Homo sapiens: one gene and its partners. The protein of the gene in region 2 purifies or fractionates together with the protein of the main gene of each other region. This does not show direct contact. Each region holds a gene or a part of one and is shown on either strand. Other genes may lie near its edges.

The links. The genes of interacting proteins can lie anywhere in the genome.
Region 1: the proteins of SAE1 (region 2) and RACGAP1 purify together in Homo sapiens (affinity purification with mass spectrometry, with the first as the bait; one large-scale study listed by BioGRID). This does not show direct contact.
Region 3: the proteins of SAE1 (region 2) and XPNPEP3 purify together in Homo sapiens (affinity purification with mass spectrometry, with the first as the bait; one large-scale study listed by BioGRID). This does not show direct contact.
Region 4: the proteins of SAE1 (region 2) and SLC25A4 purify together in Homo sapiens (affinity purification with mass spectrometry, with the first as the bait; one large-scale study listed by BioGRID). This does not show direct contact.

What each region holds. Positions count from the first base shown.
Region 1 is NC_000012.12:50,001,266-50,005,107, forward strand, and holds part of RACGAP1 (rac GTPase-activating protein 1), read right to left. Parts: intron 3,040-3,842; coding exon 2,970-3,039; intron 1,036-2,969; coding exon 982-1,035; intron 1-981.
Region 2 is NC_000019.10:47,203,596-47,207,437, forward strand, and holds part of SAE1 (SUMO-activating enzyme subunit 1), read left to right. Parts: intron 1-75; coding exon 76-145; intron 146-3,842. UniProt on the Homo sapiens protein: The heterodimer acts as an E1 ligase for SUMO1, SUMO2, SUMO3, and probably SUMO4. It mediates ATP-dependent activation of SUMO proteins followed by formation of a thioester bond between a SUMO protein and a conserved active site cysteine residue on UBA2/SAE2.
Region 3 is NC_000022.11:40,881,035-40,884,876, reverse strand, and holds part of XPNPEP3 (xaa-Pro aminopeptidase 3), read right to left. Parts: intron 3,108-3,842; coding exon 2,700-3,107; intron 1-2,699. UniProt on the Homo sapiens protein: Catalyzes the removal of a penultimate prolyl residue from the N-termini of peptides, such as Leu-Pro-Ala. Also shows low activity towards peptides with Ala or Ser at the P1 position.
Region 4 is NC_000004.12:185,146,153-185,148,802, reverse strand, and holds part of SLC25A4 (ADP/ATP translocase 1), read right to left. Parts: intron 1,990-2,650; coding exon 1,832-1,989; 3' UTR 1-1,831. UniProt on the Homo sapiens protein: ADP:ATP antiporter that mediates import of ADP into the mitochondrial matrix for ATP synthesis, and export of ATP out to fuel the cell.

The DNA of each region.
Region 1 (3,842 bases), on a different chromosome or scaffold from region 2:
AAAGACCCGTAACTTTAATGCCAAGCAGATCTGAAGCACAGAAGATAAAATTATTCCATCAAACAACTTGGATACAGGTCCTGGGGATTAGGGCTACAGTAAATAACAAACAATGTGTTCTCTCTCTCTCTCTCTTTGCCTATTTCCACATGAAGAATAAGCTGTTTCAAAAGAATATGTTGTACAAAAATGCTCTCAGTGCCCTAGAAAAAATGAGCAAGCTATGGAGAAATTTAGATGACACCACCAGAAAAAGTACAGCTGTAATCCTAACTAAGGACATGAAGTCTTGGAAACACATTAAGTACCCTAAACAAGCATACACAGATAGATCTCTATATATCCCATTATATGAAGCTTATATTAGAGCACAAAAGTTCTGTGTAAAAATTCATATGACAATTCAAAACAAACTTAAGTTTATCCTTTTCCACTGTATGAATGAATTGAAATGCAGCCTAAACAGTGAAATGGACAGGATTCTGTCCTAAGTTACTACTTCAAAGAGTACCAGTACTGGTTGGGAGCAGTGGCTCACGCCTGTAATCCCAGCACTTTGGGAGGCCGAGGCAGGTGGATCACCTGAGGTCAGGAGTTCAAGACCAGCCTGGCCAACATGGTGAAACCCCGTTTCTACTAAAAATACAAAAATTAGCCAGGCATGGTGGCAGGCACCTGTATCCCAGCTGCTTGGGAGGCCGACGCAGGAGAATTGCTTGAACCCGGGAGGCGGACGTTGCGTTCAGCCGAGATCGCGCCATTGCACTCCAGCCTGGGAAATGAGCAAAACTCCGTCTCAAAAAAAAGAAAAAAAAAAAAAAAAAAGAATATCAATACTGTCCCCACAGCATGAATTCATCTGTAGTATGTGCTTAACAATGGCTAGAGCAACATGACAGGAATGCAGTATCATGGCAAAATTTCCAAAAATAACTCCATTATTACTTTGTTTTAAAAAAAGACTAAACAAATCATACATACCCTCTTTTCTCTCTTCTTCAGTTTGAAAGTCTTCACCAAAGAAGAGTCCCAATCCTGTTGACAATTACACTGTATTAATTTCTTTTTTTGGTTAGGCCATCCCTAAACCCTGTGCAAATAAATTTACAGAGAACTTTAAAGGCTTCTTCAGTCAGGCTACCTAACGTACAATTCGGGGAGGGTTAGAGAAGGGAAGGTCTCAAGTGTTGTAGCTATAGAGCTATAGTAAGTTAATGTGCTTTCTTTGAAAAATTGAAGCTATTATAATAAAATCAGGAATCAATACCACAGAGGCAAGAAGAGGTTAAAGAATCAAATTCTGCCATATTTCCAGTGGCTGATCCTTTATTTCTGATTATTTTTGTAATTAGTTTTAGAACTTACAGAATGTTAGGCACTATACTGATTGTATTAGATGTGATTCTTGCCCCCAAGGGATTGCCACTGTCTAATCAAATGCTCTGCATAATATTGCCACTTCACAAGTTCCACAGTTGCCAGGCGATGGCTCATGCCTGTAATCCCAGCACTTTGAGAGGCCAAGGTGGGCGGATCATGAGGTCAGGATATCGAGACCATCCTGGCTAACACGGTGAAACCCCGTCTCTACTAAAAAAATACAAAAAAATTAGCCAGGCGTGGTGGCGGGCGCCTGCAGTCCCAGCTACTCTGGAGGCTGAGGCAGGAGAATGGCATAAACCCGGGAGGCGGAGCTTGCAGTGAGCTGAGATTGCGCCACTGCATTCTAGCCTGGGTGACAGAGTGAGACTCTGTCTCAAAAAAAAAAAAAAAAAAAAAGTTCTACAGTTTAGGAACTTAGGCCCTAAAACGTGTCCACCACTGAAGAACTATTTGTCTTTTATTGTGGTCTCATTTCAATTCACCTATTTTAACTATTTGCATTCATTTTAGTAGTTACCTGTGATTTCCTTACTCCTGATCATCCCTGAAAACAGTATCTAGAAACAGTGGTATACAGCAAATAATAGCTTAGCTAAATAAATTTAACTTCCCCAAGTCATGGTCCAGTAATTTAGTTACTGGTTGTTTGATTCAGCTTCAGTTACAAGAAATATCGTATCATAGGTCTAGCTCAAAAATCAACTGATAATATGATCTAGTTTTATTATATATTCCAGACCTCCACTATATCATTCCCTATTTGAGAAAGGTGATGCCTAATATTTTTATCTATAAAATGGCCGTATTTTCCCTGGTCAAACACTGAATCTGAACAGAAAACTCCTAGCCATGTAACAAATAGTTGTCACCTGTTTTGCTATACCAGAAAACCAGTCACCAAAAACTTCCTGATTTGTTTTGTTTGCTAGTTTTCAGCTAGTAACAGAAAAGATGCACAAATCAATGAACTATATCAAAGACTGTATCAGGAGATGACCTTTTATGCAGAAGCATCACTGTAAGTTAAAAGAAGTGTGCCGCCCCATAAAAGCAGGGCAACAAATAGTTTAACATGTTAACCATTGTTGATGAAAGCATTATATAGTGCCTAGAAACTCTAATCACACTTTTCTGGCTGAAATCCCAGGACCTTGGTTTCCTTCTAATTGTGAAGTATGACTATGCTTTCCCCAAGAACCAAACTAATTCAGAAATAAGGCACAAGTCTATTTAAGAGCAGCAAATAAACCCTGACGACATACAGTCTTGCTAATATTTTTATTATTAGCTGGGGCTTTAATAAGTCAAAATATAATCAGTTAGTACATGTGGCACACAGAGATCTATTAAATGAACTCAACTTATGCCAAATTCTGAATTATATATTCTCACTTCAGAAACTAATATATAAGCCAGCCTCTTATAGCTCATGTGGATTTATATTTTAAATTGCTAGCTCAGAATCTATAACACATCAACTAATAAAATAGTAATATAGGATGTTCAGAAGAGAAGACAGGAGAGATATTCCTGGGGAAGCAGAGGTAAGAAAAGTAGGTAATTCTCAGAGATCAAATGTTTATTACCAGTGATTCATCAGTCTTGTCAAAGCTGATATCTGATAAAATGGAACCAGATTCATCAATGGTTGATAGTCTAGATCAGTGAAACAATACAACGTTAGACATGGTAGACTGTGGAATGTAAAATTCACCAACATTCAGAACAAGTCCTACTGGTCAGGTAACATCAGTTAATTTCATAGCAAAATCTTCACTATAGAGACAATTACAATCTCAAACCCTGTGGTAGGCTACTTTGTATGGTTTCCACGGAGGAGTGTGTGTGCATGAGTACAGGTGCAACACAGTTGCTTTTTCAGCAAAGACCTTATAAGGGCAGTTGAAAGTTAGTCAGGGTTATGGGTGCTATTCTCTACCGAGTTTGTATTACAGGCTACTCCAAATTCACAAAATCAAGGGAATGAAGTTTAATTTGATCCCAACTGTGCTGGTTTCTACAAACAAGAGTATTACCCAACACTGACTTTTTAAGAAATTAAGCCTGTACATCTTCTTAGTTATAAAGATTCCCCATAAAACAACCAGGCAACAAAATAAATAGCTGACCTTTCCCTACATATTGTACTGGGGATGTTAAATTCAAAGCCTGGTTGAGACTATTTTAAACAGTGGTGCAGTGGAACCAAAATTATTGTCTGGTCTTGGCTCACAGAGGCCTTTCTAAACCAGAAGAGCTGTAAGAGCTCTCTGGAGAGTAAACACTGAAAGTATTGCTGAACTGCCACTTTCACCTTTGGGTTTCTTAGCAATGCACAGGATTAGTTATTGATGTGCAATTTAGCACCAACATCAAAATTGTATCCATGGTGAAACAACATCCTTAGGAAAGATTTAAAAATAAAATAAAATAAAATATACAGGGACATCCCTGTGCCT
Region 2 (3,842 bases):
TACTGAATTTCTCCAGATGTCATGGTCACAGTTCTGTTCCCAGTGCTCCATTTTCCTTGTCTTCCTCTCTTTTAGGTACTGCTTCTCCGAGATGGCCCCAGTGTGTGCGGTGGTTGGAGGGATTTTGGCACAGGAAATTGTGAAGGTAAAACATCACTGTGGAGCAGAAAATTGTTAACCATGACTTTGTATATGTGCTGACAGAGAGAATGGAAACTGTCTTAGACAGCTGCCTGCTTTCTCTCACCCCATTCATCTTTGTTTCATGCCCTCCCCATTTCCACCTCATCCCATTTTCTCTGGCCCATCCAGGTGCCATTCAGCAAATGACCTTGGAGTGCCTGCTCTGTGCTTAGCTCACAGTTGGCCATAGTGCCTCGAAGGTGTGATCTGCTCTCCCCTAACTGTATTAGTTATCCAGTGCCTGTTGTATTGGTCAGGGATTCTGCTTCTCATAGCTCTATAAGTGAGTACTATCATGATCCCCACTTAAGAGGAAGACACTTGGGCCCATGAAAGGGACTCCAGAACCTGTGCTCTTAACCTCTGTACAGTTTATCTCTATTCATCACCATGACATCAAAGCCCTCCCTTTTTTTTTTTTTTTTTTTTTTTTTTTTGAGATGGAGTCTCGCTCTGTCCCCCAGGCTGGAGTGCAGTAGCACGATCTCAGATCACTGCAAGCTCCACCTCCCGGGTTCACGCCATTCTCCTACCTTAGCCTTCCAAGTAGCTGGGACTACAGGCGCCTGCCACCACGCCCAGCTAATTTTTTTGTATTTTTAGTAGAGACAGGGTTTCACTGTGTTAGCCAGGATGGTCTGGATCTCCTGACATCGTGATCTGCCCACCTCAGCCTCTCAAAGTGCTGGGATTACAGGCATGAGCCACTGTACCCAGCCGCACCCCCCCCCTTTTTTTTTTTTTTTGAGACAGAATCTCACTTTGTCTCTCAGACTGGAGTGCAGTGGCATGATCTTGACTCACTGCAACCTCCGCCTCCTGGGTTCAAGCGATTCTCCTGCCTCAGCCTCCCGAGCAGCTGAGAGTACAGGTTCCCACCACCACACCAGGCTAATTTTTGTATTTTTAGTAGTTCACCATATTGGCCAGGCTGGTCTCGAACTCCTGACCTTGTGATCCTCCCACCTCAGCCTCCCAAAGTGCTGGGATTATAGGTGTGAGCCACCGCACCCGGCCAAGCCCCCGTCTTTTTAACCACACACTGTAGGTATTTGTAGAGAAATCAGTTTCTGTGTCCCCATGAACACACCAGGAGCCCCTCAAGGCTCTGTACAGGATGACCCGTGACCCTGTTAGGTAGGTGTTAGTGTGTCTCTCAGAAGGGAAGCATCTTATACAGGGTCACATAACCAGTAACTAGCACAGCCTTTTGAGGGTCTTCTGGAACATTTGGGTTGCTAAAACTATACCATACCCCCAAATATATTGTACATTCTTTGCAGACTTTGCTATTTGCCCGAAGATGTTAAATTTGCCTTTTGCAGGTTCTTGGCTGCCTTCGTGGACTCCGGTGAGGCTTTTTCCTTCTTTCTTATGGAGCAGAGTCGTGCCTGGTTAAATGATTGGCCATGTCCATGTACATGTCAAGTTTGAGCTTGGGAGGACAGTTTGGAGGCCAGCCCTTAACACTTTGTCTTGGGGTCTGTACATTCTGGAGGCGTTTGGCTCAATTTGTTAGTCACACCGTTTTCCTAAGGCTACTTTTTTTTTTTTTTTTTGTCTATTTTTTCTGATCCTTCTCTCTGGTCTAAATTCTTCCTTTGATCAAATCTAACTTTCTTCTATGTAATGGGCACCGAGGAGATATTTGGAGGGGGAAGAAAAGTGTGCAATGGCCATACCTCTTTCCTTGCTCACATTTTATACATAGCCCAGAGTGATGTGAAAATTACAGTTTATATGCCCAATCTGAGAAGAGGGTAATGGCCACCCAGAGGACTGTTCGAGCAGGATTCTGAGGCTCCCTGTAGACAAACTGCAGGAAAGAGTGCAGCAATGGGAATGTTCTAAGTGGGGAATGGGAATGTACATATTTTTGTAGCCTAAAATGACGACACCACCAATAATAGACAAGACTTACTGAAAGCCCACTGTCTGCCACACAAAGACAGTGTTTTTTACGTGGATACTCATTTCATCTCCCACCGGCCCTATGAGGTAGGAACTCCTGTGATCCCTGGTTTATAAAAGAGAGACTAAGGTGCAGGAAAGAAGATGCTTGCCCAGGCTAGTGAGTGTGGTGCCAGGATGTGGGCCCAGGCAGTCTGGTTTCTGAGCCTGTCCTCTTCACCACGGGGCAGTCATGCATCAGGTGTTGCCTTCAATGGCACCATCATGTAGAGACTGCATGGACCCCAGGGCCGCTGCCCTTGCATTGTCAGCCTTACTTCTGCACATCCCATTGAGGGGCTCCCCCTAAATTTTTCATGTGGGATGGAGACTGGAGGTTGGGGCAGGTAGCCTTGACCCCATTGTTGGTGGTAGTTTCTCACATCCCCATCCTCACACAGCCCCCTCCTTCCTGCCTGCTGGAGACAGCTGGTGCCCAGCATCTTGTTTCTGTTTATCCCAGATAGCCAGAGTACTCTGCATTCTTCGTTGCTGGGTGTGTTTGGAATCTCCTCCTACCCCATCTTGCTTGGGAAGCACTTTACCTTTTGCCCCATGTCACCCCATGCCCTGCTCTCATCCCCAGTACTCCTTCATACTTATTACTGGTCAGCCTTCAGCCAGCTGGCAGGCGGGGCCTGCAGTCCAAGGGCCTCAGACTCACCTTTCTCTCCTGAGGCACTGTCTGAGCGCCTATGGAAAGCTTACACTAGGAGATGGGTCAAGCGCAAGTCTGCTCCTTTGGAATCATCTTTTGCGTCTTTCCTTTCTTACGTCCTTCTAGATACCCTATTTTATATCCATGTCTACTTCCTTGGGTTTAAAGCAGTTTTCCTTTCTCTCCATCCCCACCGTCCACGGCAGGTCTCCCTGTCTATGGTAAGAGAGGTGATAGTGAAAGCAGCAGCCATCCCAGGTTCATGGTAAAACACATACCATCTCCTGTATCTTGGGTTTGAGGGTCTAAGAGTTCCACCTGTGTACTGTTGGACCCTTCCACCTGGCTAGGTTGGTGGCATCCCCAGTATTGGTAAAGGACTCCTGGCCCTATTATTATTAATAGCAGCTCCTACTTACTAAGAATTTACTACGTGCTCGGCACTTTACAAGCCTAGTCACATTTCATTCTCACCAAAACTCTAGCAGGCAGGTGCTTTTTATTTGCCTATTTGCCCAGAGAAGCAAACTTCTTTCTGATCCAAGCTCCATGTGGACAGAGACCTCAGAATCCTTAATGTCTAGCTGAATACCTGGCATAGAGTAGATGCTTAATAAATGTTCCCTTGACTGGGTGCAGTAGCTCATGCCTGTAATTCCAGCACTTTGGGAGGATTGCTTGAACCTAGAAGTTCAAGACTAGCTTGGGCAACATGAGGAGACCTCATCTCTACAAAAGTCCCAGCTACTCAAGAGGGTATGGGAGGATATCTGGAGCTGGGGAGACGGAGGTTGCAGTAAGCCGAGAATGTGCCTCCCACCTGGGTAGCAGAACAAGATCCTATCTCAAAAAATTAAAAACATTTACAAATAAATAAAATTTCCCTGGAAAAATGGCTGACTAACACTATTTGTATATGGTAGATGTGATTGTCCCTGTTTTATGGATGAGGAAAAGGGTTTGGTGCTGAGTTTGAAGAGGAGCAGTTCAGGATGTGTAGCCCCACCTTCCTCATGAATGATGGGACGGTGCTCCTGGGAACCGTTAAACC
Region 3 (3,842 bases), on a different chromosome or scaffold from region 2:
TTTTCGTATTTTTAGTAGAGACGGGGTTTCACCATGTTGTCCAGACTGGTCTCGAACTCCTGATCTCAGGCAATCCACCTCCCTTGGCCTCCCGAAGTGCTGGGATTACAGGCGTGAGCCACTGCACCCGGCCAATTGTTGTAATTTTTAAAAAGTAAAACAATCTCTACTACACGTTCAAAGTGTATGAAATCATAGCTCACTTTTTTAAAGGTTTTTAAACCTTTCAATAAATATGATTTTAGCCAGGCACGGTGGCTCACGCCTGTAATCCCAGCACCCTGGGAGGCTGAGGGGGGTGGATCACCTGAGGTCAGGAGTTCGAGACCAGCCTGACTAACATGGTAAAACCTTGTCTCTACTAAAAAAAAACAGAAAAATTCCCCGGGCATGGTGGCGCGTGCCTGTAACCCCAGCTACACGGGAGGCTGAGGCAGGAGAATTACTTGAACCTGGGAGGCAGGAGTTGCAGTGAGCCGAGATGGTGCCATTGCACTCCAGCCTGGGCAAGAGCGAAATTCTGTTTCAAAAAAAAAAAAAAAGGAATGGTGACCGAGAAGTACTTTTGAGAAATTTATTTTACATGAGATTGTAACTATACTGAATTAATAAAACTTAGACAGTAGAACATGACAAGTAGCAACTAATGTAAGAAAAAAGCTAGAAAGAAAATGATTCTATGCCCCACATTTATGTGGATTTTGAAGACATAAGAAAGTTCAATGAATTGAACAGGCTAATTATCTATAAAATGGAAAACATTTCTATAAATAAAAAGAATTTAATCAAATGTATTAGAACTTACATATTCAAATGAGTATTTTCTTCCAAAAGAGGCTTTACAGGAAACAGTCTAATATATTTTATGATTGTGAAAAACATTTTTGGAATTCTCTTTTAGAAGCTAACTTCAGATATGATTTGTAACCCATGTAAGAAAAATCAAACAAAAACTTTATAATTATACATTATCTTGACCTAAAATCAGTATTTTTAAACTTGAGCATCTATCTTATTTTCCAAATAAGATACTTCAAAAAATAAAATACTTCCCAGAGCTAAAGTTTTTTAAGAATTACTAAAGATAGTTTATAATGTGGTGTAGGTTCTGAAAAAATTCCCAGAAGAAAAATCTCAAAACATTCGGATTGATTAAAATTTCACCAGAATAACTGTAGAGAAAGTAATTTCTTTGAGGGACAAGAACTCAACTATGGCCAGGCACGGTGCCTCACACCTGTAATCCCAGCACTTCAGGAGGCTGAGGTGGGAGGCTCACTTGAGGCCAGGAGTTCAAAACCAGCCTAGGCAACAAAGTGAAACTCCATCTCTACAAAAAAATAAAAAAAAATTAGCCAGACATAGTGGTGTGCCCAGGTAGTCCCAGTATTCTGGAGGCTGAGGCAGGAAGACTGCTTGAGCTTTGGGGTTCGAGGTTGCAGTGAGCCATGAGTGTGCCACTATACCTACATCCCAACCTGGGTGACAGAGTGAGACCCTGCCTAAAAAAAAACAAAAAAAGAACTCAACTGTATATGAACCACAAAAGATCTGTTAAAATGCAGATTCTGATTCAGTAGATAGGGGATGGAGGCCTGAGATTTTAATTTCTATTACATATTATGCATTTTTAATTTTAATATGCATTACCAGGTGATTCTGATGCTGTGATGCATGGATCGTTCTTGGAGAACAGTACCTCCTTTTGAAGAGCTGGCAAGAGCACTAAGATAAGAAGTAGTTGTCAAATATCAAGAAGCTGGTCAGTAATCTTGAAGAGTGGTCCATGCCCATCCTGTCCTTAATTTATTTATTTTTTGGAGATGGGGTCTCACTACGTTGTGCAGTCTGGACCTGAACTCCTGGCCTCAAGCGATCCTTCTACCTCAGCCTCTCCAGTAGCTGGACTACAGACGTACACCACTGTGTCTGGCTTATCCTTTGCTTTAAAAGAAAATTCTCTGTGAGATTTCAAACTAGGATAGGTAACAGTCTCCATTAATGAATAATCCAGTGAACATGGAGTTTTTTTTTAATTGAAATGTTCTAAAATTCATTGTGGTGATGGTTGCACAATTCTATGACTATACCAAAAACTCTTAAATTATATACTTTCATTTTATTATTTTTTTTGAGATGGAGTCTTGCTCTGTCGCCTAGGCTGGAGTGCAGTGGCGGGATCTTAGCTCACTGGCTCACTGTAACCTCCTGCAAATGAATAAATGAATCTTTTTTTTTTTTTAAGACAGTCTTGCTTTGTTGCCTAGGCTGGAATGCAGTGGCATGATCTCGGATCACTGCAACCTCCACCTCCCGGGCTCAAGTGATTCTCCTGCCTGAGCCACCTGAGTAGCTGGGATTACAGGCGCCTGCGACCATGCCTGGCTAATTTTTCTATTTTTAGTAGAGACGGGGTTTCGCCATGTTGGCCAGGTTGGTCTTGAACTCCTGGCCACAAGGAACCTGTCTGCCTCGGCCTCCCAAAGTGCTGGGATTACGGGCGTGAGCCAATGCACCAGGCATAAATGAAATCTTTAAAGAAGCTCAATCTTCTGAAAAAGACTTTACATTTCTTTCATGGTGCTCATGGTCTTTTCATGGTGGTGCTACGATAACAAAATTAAGGACTTGTCTAAACAGGCAAGAAAGGTTTTAATCCCAATCTGGTTTGTAATGTGACTTCTGCTCCCATTTGTTACCTTTCATTTTTGGTAGAAGATGTTGAAATTCTTCTAGCGTATAGGCTTCGTCTACTCCAGTTAGAGCTATTGCTCCATCAGTGCCAGATCGCGGACCATCCCAAAGTTCTCGACTGGGATCTCGCCGAGGCACAAAAAGTATGGCTTTGTGTGATGGTAATTGTTTGCCAGGGAGGCTCTGAAGGACAAGAATGCTATCAGGCTCTTGGAATCCACATAGGTACAGGAAATTGTTGTCTTGGTGGAAAGTATAGGGAATATCGTTGCTCATGTAGTATGTAGGGTTGGAGAGCACAACCACTGTCTGGTCTGTCCCACTCTGCCCTTGAGCTTCCTTCTGGATCAGAGACATTAGTTTGTGTCTGCGAAGTGCATATTCCACCTGAGATAGTCCTGGAGTTACCTCCCCTAGAAATGACAAATAAAAGGGATGCTTTACATTTCTGCAGTGCCAAAGTACTTAAGGTAGTTTAATATTAGATGGAAATACTCAAGTCCAATTGTTCAATTTATGCCAAATCTCCTCACAGCACATGGAGAATTAAGGAGATAACCAGGTTTCAAACTTGTATTCCACTGCAAAAATTTGGAAGAAATGATAGTTGAATGTGGCCCCGCCTGAAATCTGGAATCATGGACCCCTTAGATCTCTTCCAGGTCTTTGGCTCATTCTTTTACTCACTCAGTTATATTCATTGAATATAATTTTTTTTTTTTTTTTGAGACAGAGTTTCGCTCTTGTTGCCCAGGCTGGAGTGCAGTGGCATGATCTCGGCTCACTGAAACCTCTGCCTCTCAGGCTCAAGCAATTCTCCCACTTCAGCCTCCCGACTAGCTGAGGTGGTTCACGCCTGAAATCCCAGCACTTTGGGAGGCCAAGGCAGGCAGATCACCTGAGGTCAGGAGTTCAAGACCAGCCCGGCCAACATGGTAAAACCTCATCTCTACTAAAAAAAACACAAAAATTAGCCATGTGTGGTGGTGCATGCCTGTAATCCCAGCTACTCGGGAGCCTGAGGCAGGAGAATCGCTTGAACCTGGGAGGTGGAGGTTGCAGTGAGCCAAGATCCCGCCACTGCACTCCAGTCTACGCGACAAAGCAAGACTCCATCTCAAAATAATAATAATAAAGTATATAATTCA
Region 4 (2,650 bases), on a different chromosome or scaffold from region 2:
ATACAGGGACTTGCTTCCTCCAGATTAGTCACAATCCAGGAGACTATAGCAACTGCTTGGTCTTTTCCTGGTCCAAGTGTGAACTTTCCAACCTGATAGTCTAAGTATTTTCCTCTGGCTCGCAAATCTCGGAGGAGCAAATCCAAAACTGACTTCCTGTAGGTCTTGATAAATTGTTACAGAAGTACTGGAGGATGCTTTCTATACCCATGTTTCTAAATCTGGTTATTTTCTTTCAAAGCCTCCATCTCCTACCACTCCCTCCCCCCATTTCATTTCCCTTCTATTCCTTCTCAAGCAAGATGTATTGTCTTAAACAAATTGTCTAACAATGGAATTTCACCTTTTCTCCCCAACTGAAGCATCTTTCAGGGCAGGTTCCTATCTATTTTCCCTTCCACGGGGCCTAAGAGGTATTAAATACTAGCTTGATAAGTGATGCTATGGACTGAATGTTTGTGTCCCTTCAAAATTCATCTGTTGAAATCTTAACCCCCAAAGTGGTGGTGTTTGGAGGAGGGGCATTTGGGAGGTAATTGGGTCATGAGGGTAGGGCCCTCATGAATGGGATTAGTGAGCTTATAAAAGGGACTACAGAGAGCTCTGTCGCTCTTTCTGCCATGTAAGGATACAAGAAGTCCGTAGTTTATAACCCAGAAGAGGGCCCTCATCAGAACCTGACCACAGTGTCACCTTGATCTTGGACCTCCAGACTACAGAACTGAGAAATAAGTTTCTGTTGCTTATAAGCCATCAGTCTACAGTACCTTGTTATAGTAGCTTAAACTAAGACAACTGATTTTCTTTCTTTTTTTTTTTTTTGAGACAGAGTCTTGCCCTGTCGCTTAGGATGGATGTGGTGGCATGCCATCTCAGCTCACTGCAACCTCTGCCTCTCGGGTTCAAGTGATTCTGATGCCTCAGCCTCCTGAGTAGTTGGGATTACAGGTGTGCGCCACCACACCCAGCTAATTTTTTGTATTTTTATTAGAGATGGGGTTTCGCTCGGTTGGCCAGGCTGGTCTCAAACTCCTGGCCTGAAGTGATACGCCCACCTCTGCCTCCCAAAGTGCTGGGGTGACAGGTGTGAGCCACTGCACCTGGCCTTGATTTTCAATGAATACTCTCTACTTAACATAAAATTCTAGGTGTCACAGTTATCTAAAGGGATGAAAACAGAGCACTTCCTAATCATAGAAAATTCTCCAGATTGTGATTTAAAACTTTTAGCAGAATCTTAGAATTTCTAAAGACTGCAGGAAAGTGCCTAAGACAAGGCAGGATTATGAAAGCCATTATCACTTTCTAGCCTACAGTAATGCTGGATAAGATAGATAGAATATGACCTGCCTAAGTTTGAAAACCGGAACTTTAAGCATTGTACGTTCTCATATAATACATTCTCAATATAATATCTGGCATTTAGAAGCTTGGCTGCTGACTGATACATGAATCATGCTAGAAAATATGCATTTTTGATCTTTTAAAAATGCATTTTACAGTTAATAAGAGTTCAATAAAATAGAAAGCGTGCATTAAGTGGTCTTTATTGATGTTTCACATTCAGTTATTATCAATTCTTCAGTTAATTGTACAAGTATGATAAATTATTTTCTATTTGCTGTGGGAATTTAAATGTAAAATAAATACAAAATACATGTGTGGTTTAATGAACACTCAATGAAGCATCTCTTCTGAGGTATTCCTTTCAGTCTGGTTTTATCCCAGATCTTTTTACTTCCCCTAGGAATAGTCTATTAAACCACACAATGGATCTGTGAACTTGTAGATCAAGTTCACTGTAAATCTGTGAACTTGTGTTTTAATTACATTAGACATATTTTTTGATCTCATCATACAACACCAATACAAAAGCACCGCCCATGCCTCTCAGCACATTGGACCAGGCACCTTTGAAGAAGGCCTTGGCTCCTTCGTCTTTTGCAATCTTCCTCCAGCAGTCAACTGTCCCCGTGTACATAATATCGGCTGTGGAAACAAATGCTGGTGAGGGCTCCGTAACGCTGGAGGAAAGAGACTTTTCCCCTGAAACATATCTGTACACACTGTTACCAGTTTTATAAAATCAGGGTCATCTGGGCATGGAGTCCCAGCTCCATGCAACATCCCACTGGACATCTCCTTCCTTGCTTCACTGGCAGGCTGGGTCTCCTGTCATTCCTACTCCATTAGTTCAAGGTCAGTGAAGAACTGGGGCAATTAACCAAGTAATTCATGGACTGCCCAACTGCGAAACAAGAAGGGCGCAGTGGAGCAGGAGTATTATGCTACGCGGTTACCTTTTTTTATGGAGGACCGAACTGAGGCCGAGCCTCAGATGATCCTGCACGAGGTTATGCAGTCTAAATAAAAGGCTGTAACTATTCGTTGAAACATACGAAACTGCTAACATTGGACTGTTTTTGACTTTTAAAGTGGCAATTTCGTATGGTTCAACCTATAGAAGCCAAAACTTTCTCTGGCACAACAGATTGCTTCAGGCCATCTCTACCCAGCTAAACACCCCATCCCACTAACACCTGTAACTAGGAGGGAAGCAAGAGTTCTTTGTAAGAAGTAGCTAACTACTTCTTTTCCCTAGCTTTTGCACCCAGGCTCTAAGGGAAGAGGGCCTAGGGTCTCTATAATG